2 separate regions of the Homo sapiens genome follow, and region 2 is linked to region 1. A link means that fine-mapping ties the variant in region 1 to the expression of a gene that starts in the linked region. Tissue or cell type: caudate. Region 1 holds a variant in brackets; the other region holds the start of a gene. All regions are shown on one strand. Distances are between the middles of the regions.

Evidence for each region. PIP is the estimated chance that this variant, and not a neighbour inherited with it, causes the effect.
Region 2: it holds the start of KCNJ9, and the variant in region 1 is fine-mapped to the expression of KCNJ9 in caudate (GTEx, PIP 0.93).

The regions. Positions count from the first base shown.
Region 1 is chr1:160,482,111-160,490,216 of GRCh38, forward strand. It overlaps SLAMF6 (SLAM family member 6), which reads right to left. Exons shown (of 8, transcript NM_001184714.2): 5 at 8,088-8,106; 6 at 6,978-7,060; 7 at 4,994-5,065; 8 at 2,926-4,644. The coding sequence ends at 4,597. Among named protein-coding and RNA genes, the nearest start is that of SLAMF6, 37 kb to the right of the region's middle. RefSeq lists enhancers at 7,230-7,359, 7,470-7,529. The variant G/A (reference allele first, on the strand shown) is at 3,195.
Region 2 is chr1:160,078,197-160,086,302 of GRCh38, forward strand. KCNJ9 (potassium inwardly rectifying channel subfamily J member 9) reads left to right here and starts at 3,342. Exons shown (of 3, transcript NM_004983.3): 1 at 3,342-3,501; 2 at 5,721-6,684. The coding sequence starts at 5,835. RefSeq lists an enhancer at 6,402-6,932.

The DNA of each region.
Region 1 (8,106 bases):
TCTATCCAGTGACCTTGGACAGGGTAGCCTTCTCTCTGTTCTGCATCTAGCTGTGGCCCTGCTTCCTCATATCAAAGTATACACTGAACCCTGAGGGAGGCTAAATGATGAAAGCTTCAAGTAAGTGTCCTAAAGCTACACGGGGTTCAGGTGTTGGCTTGAGGGTGGGATGGGGTGTGGACAAGTGAGATCAGACATTGTTATTTTGGGACTAGTTAATGTGCTCTTTTGACCAACATGATGTGGGGCAAAGCTTCATGGTGTAGGTAAGAGGTTGGAAACTTAACTATTTTCAGTACTAGGTAGGTATCTTAAGTGAGTGAAGCAGGCAGGGCAGGCCAGGAGTGAAATGTGAAGTGCAAGCCCCATTTAGAATAGAACAGAGGCTACTCAGCACCAGCTAATTGTTGCCTCATAGGGATGTGGTCCCAGTATCCATAAGGCACAGAAGTAGGAAGGAGAGTCTAGATTATTCTAGGAGCTGAATAAAGAACAGTGTGGCTGGAATGCTGTGAAAGAAGGAGTAGAGATGTGAGTAGGGGTCTTGTAGGCCTTGTCAACACTTTGTGACCTCCTAGTGGGAATGACTGGGGGCTGGCAGAGTGGGAAGAGTATTTCTATTCCCTTTTATTACCTTTCCAGGATAGCCAATCACAGCCATCTTACCTTATTCAAAGTAGTTTAATGGGGCTACCATTTCCTTAATTCTACAATAAAAATATTAAAGAACAAGCTTACCTCCTGGGCAAAGAAAGTTTGTTTTTTGGTAGGAATTTTATAAGCATTGCATGTTTTCTTCCCTGCTTGCAAAATGCATGATTCATCTTTTAGGAATGGGGCATCTGGGTCTTAATGTATTTAACTTTAGAACAATAGATTAGGTTTTTGTTGATTAAATCCATTTGTTTCCCACAAGAAAACAAAAATGATTAGTTATATGGTGAGTACTGGGTAGTTTTCAGTTTTGTAAAGGAGATCTGTTCAAGAGTGTCCCATAACAATGATACCATTTACTGATATGAAAAAGCATAGTAGAAGAAAAGGCTTGATAAGAGAAATCAAGAGGTTTGATTTTTTTTTTTTGACAGAGTCTCACTCTGTTGCCCAGGCTGGAGTGCAGTGGCATGATCTTGGCTCACTGCAACCTCCGCCTCCTGGTTTCAAGTGATTCTCCTGCCTCAGCCTCCTGAGTACCTGGGATTACAGGCACCCAACATCACACCCGGCTAATTTTTGTATTTTTAGTAGAGACCGGGTTTCACCATGTTGGCCAGACTGGTCTCGAACTCCTGACTTCAAGTGAGCCACCTGCCTCGGCCTCCCAAAGTGCTGGGATTACAGGCATGAGCCACCACATCTGCCCAAGAGTTTTTATTTTTTAAAAAACTTTGATATATCTACCAGATATGCAAATGGTGATGCCAAGTAGGCAGTTAATGAGGTAAGCCAGGAGGTCAGGACTAAAGATGTGTTTGGGAACCATTAGCTTATAAAGGCTATTAAGGCAATAGGAATGGCTGACATCAGATAAGAAGAGTACTTAGATGGAGAAGTGAATGGGACCCACATGTGAGCCTTAGCTTCAGTCTTTACTGGTCCTGTGGAGGAGGCAGTGGATCTGCAAAGAGCCTGAGAAGCAGCTAGGAAGGAAGGAGTAAAACTCGGGGAATGTAGTGTCACAGAAGCCAAGAGAAGAGAGTGTGGTATTTATGATAAAAAGGGAGAAGGTTGAAGAGATTGAAAGAAATATAACATCAGGAATTCTATGTTTTAGTAGCTGGTCTATAAAGACAAGTGAGCTTAGCTTTCTTATGAGTTCTTTTCTTACTCACCTCTTAGATGTCTATAGATACGCCCTTAGTTTTTGTTTTGTTTGTGATCCTCCCCAGTGCAGTCCAGATTCAGGGTAGATTCTGGTAGATTTCTGACTAGATGGATTAGTTGTGCCTTCCATGACATATCCCCTAATTTTCTTGCTGGTTTTGGGCACCCTAGATGTTGCAAATATTTTTCTATCTGCACTGACTTTACAGATTATTCCTTTTCCCTCTCTGAAGAACCTTGGAATTCTTCAAAGTTTCCACACACACAAAAAAAGCTTTATATATATATATATATATATATATATATATATTTTTTTTTTTTTTTTTTTTTTTTTTTTTTTGGGTCCCCTTGAAAGGAAAGCACTCTCTTACCTGCCCAGTGAGATTTCCTGAGCTTCAGGTCATGTTGCACGAACATGGCAGTAACCCTCTTTTTACTCTTTTCTTTGAAGTCTCCATGAACCCAGAACCTATTCCTTGGAAACTCTTCCTTCTTCTTGATTAAGCTTCCCTATCTTGTCCTACTCCACTGACTAATACTGTAATTGATGGCTGGTATTTGAGATTAATTAACTTTGATGAGCTTTGTTTTTTTCTATTCTTTTCAGCCATTATTTCAGTTTTTCCCCATTCCAACTCTCCAACCCCTTCCCTTTGAATCCTGTGGTCTTGAGAGCTGATCTCTGTCACGTCTTGTTGTGCTGAAGGTTTGTGAGATGATTCTGTGTAATTCAGTAATAATTAATTTTTACTATTATTAATTTATACTAATTGTATCAGTAATTATACCAACAATGCTGACTGACATTTATTGAGCTCCTTTATGTGGCTGAGAGCTATGCTAAGGACTCCAGGTGTATTGTCTTATTTCATTTTCACAAAACCCCATTACATATTCATTTATTTATTAAAAAATTTTTTTGAACACTTGCTATATGCTAGATACTGTGTTAGGTGCTAGGGTTACGGTGATAAACAAAACAGTTATTGTCTCTGTTTCTGAAGAGCTTAGGGTATAGTGGGAGAAATAGATGTTAAAAAAGTAAAAATAAATATTTAATGATATGATAAATGACATAGAAGGTGTAACAGAATAATAAGATCTATTTCATTTTATTTTATTTATTTATTTTTTGAGACAGAGTCTCACTCTGTCACCCAGACTGGAATACATTGGCATGATTTTGGCTCACTGGAACCTCCACCTCCTGGGTTCAAGCGATTCTCCTGCCTCAGTCTCTCAAGTAGCTGGGATTTTAGGGGTGCACCACCACGCCTGGCTAATTTTTTTGTATTTTTAGTAAAGACGGGGTTTCACCAAGTTGGCCAGGCTGGTCTTGAACTCCTGACCTCAAGTGATCTCCCCCCTTG[G/A]CCTCCCAAAGTACAGGGATTACAGGTGTGAGCCACCATGCCCAGCCTAGAAGATTCATTTTAGAAAGAGTGGTCTGGGAAGGTTTCTCTTAGGAGGTGACATATTTAAAATTAAACCTAAAGAATAGGAGGACCCCAGCAGGCAGAGGAAGGGCCTGCAGGAAGATGTAAATAATTAACATAAAGAACTTTTCCTTTAATAGAGGAGCTGAAAGAAGATCAGGGAGGCTACATAGAGAGTGTCAGAAGGGTAATGCTAGCTGAGGCTGGAGGTGGGCCAGACCATCCAGGGCCATGGAAACTGGATTTCTTTCTGAGTGCATTGGGAAACCTGCAGGGTTTTAAGCAGGAAACTGAAGGATCCAATTTATATTAAAAACATTACTCTGGCCATCTTGTGGAGAGTGGGTTGGAGAGGGACAAGAACAAAAGTGAGGACAACTGTTCTGATCTTAAGGTAGGATTCAGGTTAGAGGTGGTGATGGTTGGATACAGGATGGTGGTCAAGGAGTTGGAGGAGAAGTGGAAGGTCCAAGAAATATTTCTGAGGTAGAGTCCAAAGGGCCTGGTGACAAAGACACTGGAGTCAGGGATGACTTAGATTCTTGGCTCAAACAATGGAGCTGATGTAATACCATCCTCTTCCTTTTTCAGTCTGGGAGACTAAGGCTCCAAAAGGTTAGGCAGTATGTCCCAGGAGATGTGTCTAATAAACATTGTACAAGTTGAGCATCCCAAATCCAAAAATCCAATATCCAAAATGCTCCAAAATCTGAGATTTTGAGCACTGCATCGACATCAATGAAACTCAAGGGAAATGCTTATTGGAGCATTTTGAATTTTGGATTTTTGGATTTGGATACTCAACCGCTAAATATAATGCAAATATTCCAAAATCTGAAAAAAAATTGAAATCTGAAACATTTCTAATCCCAAGCATTTCAGACAAGGGATGCTCAACTTGTATCAGGATGGGCCCATCCAACTCCAGAGACTACACATGTAACCAACACACTGCATTATTTCTCAATAAGTCAATCCTGCTGCTTTCTAAAAGGAGAGAAGTGGTTGTCTTCTGGATCATAAACTCTCTGTCAACCATAATTCCATTTGCTTAGTTATCAAAGAGAGAGTCAATGTGCTGGTGTGTTATCTTTAGCATGTTTTGGCCTGAAGTGGATTGGAAAATATTATTTGAACCACATGCTGGAAATGATGTTATCCTTAGGTGTTTGACTCAGGTAGGCAGGTTTAAGTCCGAAGGACTGGAGGTGATCATCCTATCCTAGATATTCAAATTCTGTTGCCAGGAACAACAGGAACCAAGCTTCCTGTTCTTTGTTCTGTCTCATGGGATCAGAAGACGTGTCATTCCCGAATTCCTCTGAGGCCTTTCAGCAACTTACACGACATTGTCAAGGGCAGTTGCCCTGGAAAAAGTGGGTTTACTCTGTGGGAAAAAGAGGAAGATGAGGTAGGTTAATTGGAACTGGAACCTCAGCCCACCCCTCATAACTACAGAGAGAGGACTGGAGACTACAGAGAGGCAGATAATAGAGATATTGATAGCATAGGGCAGGATTAAATTTAAAAACATGTAATTGAAAACTCAGTTATGCATGGTGATCCTAATACAAAATAACTTCTTGATTATGTTTTGGTGATGTCCTGAGACTTTCCGCATGCTGCTGCTGTTTGTGCATCTGTAAAATGACCCTTTTATTTTTACTTTATTTGAAAAATCATAGGTCTGTGGAGAGAGGTAAGAATATAAAAACATGGAGCAATCGTGGGCTTACCTCTTTGGAATGATTAATTGTGGAGTAAATTGTGATAGTATCATTTTCTCTAGGTGTCCAGATTTCTGTTTCCTGTAAAAAGAATCATACCAATTTGGCTTACACAGAGACAAAGAGATTAATGCATAGATATATTCTTAGGAAAGACTGTGTGACAAAAAAGAGAATATGTCAAAGTTCTTCCAGAGGAAGGCTGGGGAATGTTCAGTGGAAGACCAAGCACGACTAGCTATCAAACTTGTGAGGATTTAGTGGCATTTCCTGAGCCCCAAACAGAACAGCAACACTGCAGCAAACCAATGGGCTCAAGAGCCAGAGAAAGGCAGCCTTGCTGTATGAAGGGAAGGAAGTATTCTTGTCCTTTGTCCAGCTCTACTTTCCTTCCTCCATTTTTAAGAAAAAACTTATATACCAGATAGTTTATTATATGTTTTGTCTCAAATTTTTACTAGCTATGACTGAAACTACCCATTTTGCCTGCTCCATCTTTTGCTATAATTCTAACTGCCTTGTCATCATGTCATTGGGGTCTTCTCAAGCATGGGGAATTGGTAGAATAGGAACACTTGGCCTTAAGAATGGCTCTGCCTGGAATGCACATTACAGAAATAATAGCAGAAGTCCCTACGGCCCTCAAAGAACCTACTCAAAGATTTTGACACTTTAAATTAATGAAGAAGTATTTAGAGAATTATCAAGATCTCTACTGGGCACAGTGGCTCATGCCTGTAAACCCAACACTTTGGGAGGACGAGGCAGGCGGATCACTTGAGCGCAGAAGTTTGAGACCAGCCTGGGCAACATGGTGAAACCCCGTCTCTACAAAAAGTAGAAAAATTATCCTGATGTGATGGTGCTCGCCTGTAGTCGCAGCTACTTGGGAGGCCAAGGTAAAAGGATCACCTGAGCATGAGGAGGTTGAGGCTGCAGTGAGCTGTGATTGTGCTACTGCACTCAGCCCTTGGTGACAGAGTGACACTCTGTCTCAAAAAAAAAAAAAAACCAAAAAACAAAAAACAAACCAACAAAAAACAAAAAAACCTCAAACTCTCCAAAGCACATTTTTTTTTTCTTTTTGCTAAAGAGAAAGCTAACCAATTTGTGGGAAATTAGTTTTTTGATTTGTCAGAGTGTGAGTTGACTTGTTTTCAGGAGGAATTTGCAAAGGCAAAAGAAATGTCTGAGCAAGTGAGAGTACCCCTTCTTGCTTCCTGTCATCAAGGATCATACTTTGCAAATATAGGTGAAGGGAATCCAAGATTTCTAGCTAGATCATTGCTTACATCATTTTGAAAATGCTAAGCTTTCCTGGCTTATTTTTCAGAAAACTGGCCTCTCAAAATGTATGGTATTATTTAGAGATGTGCCACCTGCAGGTCCTTTATTTAGGGGTGGTGGGGAGTTGCTGATACATGACAGATGAGTTGCTGATGCTTGACCAGCCATCCTGTTATGCTGCTAGATGAGAGGGGAGGGGTGAACCATTGCTCATGGTTTAGTGGCCTCTACTGTGCCCCCTTCCCCTCTTGAGAGACTACTTCTGAACTCCCCTAAGACCCCTACATGCAGAGTGAGAAGTCAGCCACCTGCTATGGAACTACGTCCATAGGAAACTTTCAAACTTAGTGGAACTCTGACCCATTCAGCAAGTATTTACTGATCATTATGCTAGGATATAGGGCAAGAGAGAGGAAGACATAATTTGTACTTTCAGTCAGCTTGTAATTAAGCTGAAGGGACAAGACTTACTGATGCATCAAGCGGTTGGAGAACTGTGTAAGGCAGGGTATGAATAAACATTCCCTTAAGGGTGAGAAAGGCAGACACCAGAGTGGTCTAGCGCATAACTTTGCAGCCCCTGTCGCTGTGGCTGTCTTCTCCTCCCCTCAGTGGTCATTTGTTCAGTCAGATGGTTATGGTGACAAGTTTGTGAACAATGGCTGTAAAACTGACAACAATGGCATATAAAGCTGAAAAGACTCACCCTGTTTGAATGAGTGACTGAAGCATACACAGTGTTGTTCGTTGGAGACACTGAAACATACTCTAGGTTCCTTGCGGACTCTGCTGTTAACATAGGAAGGCACAGTCAATGGCACAAGGACTCTGGGACTTCTCTCCCAGGACTTCTCCCTCCCCAGAGCACACTGTGTCCCCAGATAGGCAGGTGTTTGAAGCATCTCCTTTCCTGAGGGATCATTCGTTCTTGACAGTCTTTGGAGCTCTGGGTGAACCTTCTCAGTCATGTGGTCTATTTCTGACCACATCTCTTGGGGTAGAAGGTGGTGTTGAGGTCCCCTAAAGCTTCAGAGTCTCCCTCAGGCTTCACATGTGGGTCAGGAAGCTCCTGGGACCAAATAGCCCTGCCTATGGAAGGGCTAAAGACACCTCATTGGCAAACATAATGGAGCCAGTTATTTCACATTTGGGATATTATTAAGCTTTTCAGAGGTCTCTACAGCGGATTTGATTATTTTGGAGATGAGGAACTGGAGGCTCAGAAAACTTAACTGACTTGTGCAAAGCCATACAGACAGTGATGAAACAGCAACTCAAATGCACGTCTTCTGACTTCAAACCTTATGCCTTTTCCTCTGCAAGTGATGTCATGCATCACTCATGCATGAAATGAGACCCAAAGCCAATCTGAGTCCAGAGCCTGTGTTTGTGTTTCTATATCATGTTTTCTCTTTCCACTGTGTCTATCCATTGCCCAGACCCTGGCTGAACAGTAATGATGCAGTCAGACAGTTTGGTTTTGTGCCTTGGATGCTCTAATCCTGCCTGTGCCCTGGACTTGCTGGGTGACAAGGGATGATCCCTTTCACTGGGACTTAGTTTCTCCATCAGCAGGGTGGTGAATGAACCTGATATCACCAAGAGAAACTGTGTGAGTGACTGGTTCACATGCCTATGCCTGTGAACCATGTAGGACCCATGATTACAGATCATCTCCCCTCACAGCATGTGGTCTGAGTAATGACATTCTGACTCCTTCCTCTGTCATTATCCAGCCCTCTGCCATCCCCCTCTCTCTTCCATTTGGCTCTTCCCATCTGCTTTATGATGGAGAGTTAAGAGTCTGAATGCTCACCGGGGCCCTGTGTTCGCTG
Region 2 (8,106 bases), 400 kb before region 1:
CAAAGTGCTGGGATTATAGGTTCGAGCCACCGTGCCAAGCCAAAAGCTAGAATCTTGTCTATGCTTTTGTGTCCTGGTGCCTGGGAAAACTTTTTTTCTCCTGCCTCAGTTCAGCTCAGTGATAAATAAGGAACTGAGGTTAGATAACAGGTAAAGTCTAGGACCTGCAGGATGAGTGAATCAGGTGAGGGAGTGGTAGTCTTCTTCCTTGTCAGCCAGGCTAGGTTCAGGGGCACCTGGACTGAGGCGAGGGGCTGGCTGAAATTGCCTTGTGGAGGGCCCTGCCAGTGATGCCCCCTCCAGCAAATAGGGCCAGCTCTATGCAAATGTGTTCTTGCCCAGGAGTTTGGTTTCTTCTCTCTGAGCTCCTGGCACAGTGGAACCAATGTGAGCAGCTGCTTGGCAGGACAGAGAAGGGCAGGCTAGCAGTCCCAAAGCTCGGGTGACAGGACCAGGCCCAGGAGACGGGGATGTTGACTGGGGCTTTAACAGCACTCTTGATGCCAATCTCGGGCTGAAAACTCGATATTTCCACTTGGAACAACAAGAATCACCAGCAAGAGAGCTGAGGAGAGGGCAGTATACCGGGGGCGCCCCCTGCAGGCCTCACAGGGTGGTGCCAGAACAGAGGAAGGTGGCACAGGCAGGGTGGGGCTTTCAGGACATCCCTGAGATGATGGTGATGACAGTGACAATGATGATGACCATGAAGAAGACAATGAGGAGGAGGAAGAGGAAGACAGTAGCTAGCATTTACTGAGTACTAACAATGTGTCAGGCATTGCCTTATGTAGTCTTCATGACAACCCTCTAAGAGATGAATAATATGGTTTTCTTTTTTTTAGATGAAGAATCTGAGGTTTAACGGGTTAAATAATTGCTCAGGTTCACCCAGCTAGTAGTGGACAGAGGTGGGATTTGAACCCAAGTCATTGCCTCCTGAGCTTATATTATCCAGTACCGAATTTCCCACCTTGCCAGGTCATTCCAGGAGCTTCTAGCCCTCCGTGTCCATCTCTATGTCTTCCTGCTCCTCTAGCTCATATTTTCTTGATCCAAATTTAAAGGATCTGGATAAGAATAGATCCATATCTGGGATATAATAATACTGATAACAACAGCAACAACACTTTGCGTTTGTAAACCACTTTCTTCTCTTCATTATTTCCCTGGGGAAAAATAAACAATAAGATATTTCTGTTTCTCCAAATTTTGTTCTGATTTTTATCAGTGTTCCTGAAGCTATTTCAATATAGTCATGATCAATTTCTAAGAATATTTTTAGGTTCTGCTTTTTTATGTAACAGTGTGTTATATACACATTCACATATTTAAACACAGCAATTATTATGGCTTTACAGTAACCCATGATATTAATATTCCACAGATATTACATTACTGAGGCACACTAGGCTAAGGCTGACAACACCAAATGCTGGCAGGAATGTGGAGCAACAGGAACAGGAATTCGTGGCTGATGGGAATGCAAAATGGTACAGCTACTTTGGAAGAAAGTGTGGCAGTTTCCTAAAAAACTAAACATACTCTTACCATACGATCCAGGAATCATGCTCCTTGGTATCTACCCAAAGGAGATGAAAACTTACGTCCACATGAAAATCTGCCGATGGATGTTTATAGCAGCTGTATTCATCATGGCCAAATCTTGAAAGCAACCGAGATGTCCTTCAGTAGGTAAATAGATAAATAAACCATGGCCATCCTGAAATGGAATATTATTCAGTGCCAAAAAGAAATGAACTACAAAGCCATGAAAAGACATGGAGGAACCTTAAATTTACATTACTAAGTGAAAGAAGCCAATTTGAAATGGCTACATATTGTACAATTCCAACGACATGACATTCTGGAAAAGGAAAATTATGGAAACAGGAAAAAGAGCAGTTGTTGCCAGGGGTTAGGGAAGGGGGATTGACTAGGCAGAGCATAGAGGACTTTTACAGCAATGAGACTATAATGGTGGATACACATCATTATATATTTGTCCAAACCCACAGAGTGTACAACACCAAAAGTGAACCCTAATGTCAGCTATGGACTTTGGGCGATTATGATGTCAATGTAGCTTCATCACTTGTAACAAATGTGCCATTCTGGTGGATGTGTGGGGACAGGGGGCATACGGAAAATCTCTATAACTTTCCTCTCAGTTTTGCTCTGAATCTAAAACTACCCTTTAAGAAGTCTTCTTTTAAAACAATTTACAAAGCATGAGGTGATACAGATGTGGGAGTTTGGCTCCTGTCTCTGCCCAACTCTGTGACATTCGATAAATTACTTAACATGTCTCTGTTTCAGTTTCCTCATCTATAACTGGGAAAAATAACACCTGTCTTATAGAGTTGCCATGGGGATGACATGAGGCATGTGTCTCGTTCATATCCCATGCTCAGTGAATTAGTAGCAGCAGCCACTGTGTGTTTGTGTGTCTTTATCCCTCCTGGGTTAATGAGCTCCTTGTGGGCAGGGACTCACCCATTCTGTAACCACCCCATCTAACACACTGCCTGGCACTTGGGCTCCGCAGAAGTTTGCCGAGTGAATACTTAGTAAGCCCTAACCTAGGCTTTTCTCTCTGGTGGACATTTGGGTTGTTTCTAGGGTTTTTGCTATGAATAAAACACATTTCAAAGCCCTTTGTGGTTTTTTTGGTTTTTGTTTGTTTGTTTTTTCTTCGTTTGATCTGCTGACTCTGTGAAGCAGGCAGAAAGGGGATATTTGCTCTTGTCCACACCCTGGTACAGATGGAATAACTGTGGCTCAGGGAAGTGAAGTGACTCCTATGGGACACAGTGCAAATCAGTGGCAATAATTAGAACCCCTGACCCTGCCTCCCTTCCTTTAGTAGATCTATTTTCCTTCTAGCTACCGCCTTCTGGATCCATGGCCTCTCCAAAACTAGACCATGATGGTCAGCCTGACCTGAGAGCAGCACCTGCACGCAGAGACCCATGTTGAAGGTGGTGAGCTGCCAGCTACCAGATGGCCCTCTGAAACCCCAGGGAACCTAGCACCTTATTCTCAAATACATGAGGGCTTGTATTTTCCCCCAGGAAGGAGCTTCTTAGGAAAGAGCCAGCGTGCCAGCTTTGTTTTTCTTTCTTCTTCTTTTTTTTTTTTTCCTATGAGGGGGTGAGGAGCCAAGCTCTGAGTTGTCCAGGAGGAGGGACTTTGGCTAAAAATAGCTATGGCGTGTGGTTTGGATCAACCCCTAGTGGTACCCAGGACTGGGGAGGGGAGGGGGATGCTCTGGAGCTGTCGCCAGACTGGTTGCCGTGGAAACAAGAGAGGAGCAGGGGAGCCTGGGAAGTAGGGATGACACAGATAGCAAGTCCTAGTCAGAGCTGCCGCTACATTTAGGAGAAACAGCGGTGTCTGCGGCTCCCACCCTTCGGGGGGCCCGTGGGGGGGGCGGTGTCAGGGGCATGGACGCCACCCCCCAGGGGTCTCTGCTGCCGGCTACTCTCCTCTCCACGTGCTGTGAGTTGAGTTGCGGGGGACTTGGGGTTTGGGCCCCTATTTCCAAGGCAAGTGGGGGTTTGGGAGGAGCTGGTTCTTGGGGGAGTTTTCACCAGGTCTCTCCTTCCAAAAAATGAGCCCCCTTACTCCCCAGCTCTCTAGAGGGAGGAAGAGGGGCCCAGGAAAAGTGGTATTGCAATCTTCTGCAAAGGGGTCATAGCATGCACAAGAAATGAGGAGTAGGTTGGAGGAACTGAAATTCTTGGAGGGAAGATGGAGAAATCAAGTCCTTGATCTTGAGATAGAGGTAACAATTTCACACTTTTCCTTCCCCTGAGAAAAGTGCAGTCCCCCACTCAGGAAGACAGGATGTGGGACACATTCAAAATAAGGTTTACCTAGATCCCTGGGGCAATGGAGAGTGAGAGAGTTCTGGGGGTGATCCGACATCGGGGTTCCTTCCCCATCCCTGGGCAGAGAGATCTGTCTAGGCAAGCCGACTGGGGGTCAGATTACCTAAGACCCTGAGAGAACATCTGGAAGCCCACCTGGGACTAAAGCTAGGATAATGGGAGCAGGGTCGTTTTCTGCATGACCTGGGGTCTCTGAGCCAGTCAATGCTTACTCTTCCTGAGGACATCTGAGCTTCAGGGAAGGAAAAGGAAGCCCATTGTTGGGGGCAGGGGAAACCCTAATCTTCCATTGCCATGGGGCTCTTGGACCCTGTGTCCCCTGACTCCATGGACAATAAATGCAGGGGGTGCCCCTAAGCTCAAAGCCATTTCATTTTGATTTCTCTTCCTACCTTCTCTACCCCAAGACACACAAACACACACACACACACCCTCTCCAGAGTGCTGACTGCAGAGGACCTCACCCCAGAACATAAGATGCTGGAGTGCTAGGTTTAGAGTCACATACCCAGGCAGTTTCTCCCCAGGACCTGGTCAACCATCCAGGCCATCTGTGGTTCCTATGGCACACTCCTCCATCCCCCACCCACTAGCCAGCCCACGTTTCCGTGGAGTGGGAGGAGAGGATCATTCCCAGGAAAGAGAAGGGAAGGTGGAAGAGTCCCAAATCCTATTCTAAACCTTTCCCTGTATGGTCCATATCTCCTAGAGGACCCTGGGTGCTTTGGGGAAGGGCTCTGGACCTCTCTCAGAGCAGATTGCAGCTCAGAGAGCTCCTCAGAGGCAAGCATGTGAAGAAAAATCAGGTGGGCTTCGCTTGGAATGTGGGCTTTGGGGCATATGGCAGGTGGGGGCGGGGCTGGTGTTAGGATAGTCCATGGGAAGTAAGAGGCTGGGGGAAAATATAACTAGAGGGAGTGGGGAAATAAATGTGGGTGCTTAGTGCTTCACCTGATCTGATTCCATGTCTCTCATGAAGAATAGGATCCCAGAGGGATACGAGCCTAACTCTTTATAACTCTGGGCTTCCTTTCCCAGGCTTCTGTGTTGGGATCTTCCAGTTCCCCTCCCCATTTGCAGGCTGTCTCCACTAGGAGAAAAAACCCAAGGGAAATGAGGCTGGCCCAAGAGCAGCAGTGATCGTGGGTAGGTCTCAGGGAGGATTTCTAGTGGGAATTTCCTAATGTTCCACCCTTGTGCACTGGAGGGTTTCCACTGACTTTCCACAGCTTTCATTTCTTTCTCGTTTGTAAGCATGTTGAGGGGAGGGAATGGAGCGGAGTGAGTGAGGTCCAAGGAGGGAAGAATGAGAAAGACTGTGTATCAGTCTTGGGGTGAACTTCAAAACAGCCTGCGAGGAGAGCCATTGGTGGCTGCACTGGCTACAGCTGGGGAAGGGATGGTGGAAGTCCTTAGGGCAGGGAGGGCTCCATTACCCGCCTGCCCCCCTCCCCAAAAAGCCCCCAGTCTATTGATTTCAGGAAATCACTAGGGGGATCTGGGCCTGGGTCTTTGGCCCCGGGGCTGCCCCTGAGGTGCTGCACACCCCAGCTGGAGGTGATGGCACCAAAATATCTGGTACCTCCTTCCCCTGAAAATCATCGTGGAACTTGCACAGTTCTATCCAGTTCAGGTACATCATTCCATTTGACCCTCACAACTTTCTGAGCCTGGGGGGCAGTTAGGGCTGAATGTGTTATTCCCAGAAATAGAGGCCAGGCAACACGAAGGGACTCGCCCAGGGCCCCCCAGGGCTCGGTGCTGGCCCTGATGCCCCGTGCCTCCCCATCTCCCGAGGGGCCACTCATTCGGCAAACCTTTATTAAGCCCCTCCAGGACCCCCGACGCCGCCTAGGCGCCCAGCGACGCGCGGCAGGTGGCAGCAGCTCGGGCCCCCGCCGCACTCCAGGCGCCCGCAGCGCTCGCCCTGACGCGGCCGCCATGGCGCAGGAGAACGCGGCCTTCTCGCCCGGGCAGGAGGAGCCGCCGCGGCGCCGCGGCCGCCAGCGCTACGTGGAGAAGGATGGCCGGTGCAACGTGCAGCAGGGCAACGTGCGCGAGACATACCGCTACCTGACGGACCTGTTCACCACGCTGGTGGACCTGCAGTGGCGCCTCAGCCTGTTGTTCTTCGTCCTGGCCTACGCGCTCACCTGGCTCTTCTTCGGCGCCATCTGGTGGCTGATCGCCTACGGCCGCGGCGACCTGGAGCACCTGGAGGACACCGCGTGGACGCCGTGCGTCAACAACCTCAACGGCTTCGTGGCCGCCTTCCTCTTCTCCATCGAGACCGAGACCACCATCGGCTACGGGCACCGCGTCATCACCGACCAGTGCCCCGAGGGCATCGTGCTGCTGCTGCTGCAGGCCATCCTGGGCTCCATGGTGAACGCCTTCATGGTGGGCTGCATGTTCGTCAAGATCTCGCAGCCCAACAAGCGCGCAGCCACGCTCGTCTTCTCCTCGCACGCCGTGGTGTCGCTGCGCGACGGGCGCCTCTGCCTCATGTTCCGCGTGGGCGACTTGCGCTCCTCACACATAGTGGAGGCCTCCATCCGCGCCAAGCTCATCCGCTCGCGCCAGACGCTGGAGGGCGAGTTCATCCCGCTGCACCAGACCGACCTCAGCGTGGGCTTCGACACGGGAGACGACCGCCTCTTCCTCGTCTCGCCGCTGGTTATCAGCCACGAGATCGACGCCGCCAGCCCCTTCTGGGAGGCGTCGCGCCGTGCCCTCGAGAGGGACGACTTCGAGATCGTCGTTATCCTCGAGGGCATGGTGGAAGCCACGGGTGCGAGCAGGCCTGGGGAGGGGAGCGGGGTTGGCAGAGGGTGGGCGGGACCGAGGAAGGCAGGGGCGAGACTAGGGGCCAGGGGAGCTGGGGAGGATGGATGGAGGGGCTGGTGGAGGATGAGACAGTGAGGTGAGACAGGGGTCGGAGGCGGGAGTGGAACCGAGCAACGCCGCAGAAGGCCAAGAGAAAGCTTGGAGGAATTCTCCGAAATGGCACTGGCGTGGGGCCCTGGGCCCAGAGGAATGTGTCACTTGGAATAGGGACAGTAATAATAGCTAGTGCTCGCCCAGTATTCACCCTGTGTCATGCGCAGTTCCAAAGCACTTTCTACCTCTGAGTCGATTTAATCCTAACAAGAACCCTCTGAAGGTAACTTCTTGTTATTGTGCTCACTTTTTAGAGATGAGATTGCTCCAATGAGAAATTAAGGAAGTTGTCCACTTTCCTAAGCCAATAAGTGGCCATGCCTGGATTGGACACAGGCAATGTGGCTTCAATGTTTAGTGGTCCCGAGTTGGAAGGAGGGGTTAGGTTCAGGGGTTTTCTCACTGCAGTCAGGTTCAGGCCCCTGGAATTTGACGGTGAAGGTTTTCCATTGCCTGAGTTATTTCTAGGCCGGATCTTGAGGGGAGTTTAATACCTAGTCTCACTTGTACCTCGGTTTCCCAATTCATCCATTTCCACTGACAAGGGATATAGATGATGTTACCTTTTCTAGCTCTTTTCCAAAAGGAACTGGCAACTCATCTGTGATGTCAATAAGTCCAACCCAGACCTACACAGTGAAGGCTTTGGGAGCAGGTGAAAAAAGACCAGTGTTACAGGAGTCGCAAAGGAGGTCACTTAGGACTTGAGATCTAGAGGATAGATGAGGATGAGGAAACTGCGGGTGGAGGACCAAAGGCCCACTAGGGGGCGCCGCAGTCCCTCCTCTGACGCCAGAGCTGCTGATGCTCCCTGCCGGCTTCGCTGACAAGCTGGTGCCTTCAGATCCTTTCCCTGGCCCCTTTAGGCTGAGACTCCGCTTCACACCCCAACCCCAGCTCCGCATCACTGTTCCCATTCCTGCTTCACCCCGACTCTTTCCTCTTCCCCCACTCACCCCGTTCCCTTTCCTCTCTCTCCAGCTGTCACTCCTTTTCTGCCAGTATCTCAGGCAGGCCCCTCACCCTCCAGGGAAGTTGCTGCCCGGCCCTCTTTTCTCTTTGTACCCCCAGCCCTGCCCTCTCCTCCTCGAAGCCCTTCTCTCCCCAGTGTCCCTTATGCCTCTTTCTCTTCTCTCCCACTGGATACTTTCTATTCCAACTTCACCGAGGAATACCAATGTCTCAGCGCCAGGCTTTCCGAGTTGACAGCCACTCTCCGGTTAGCTAATGTTCACTCTTCTGTTTCCCCTTGTTCCGAGATGGATATGGGTTG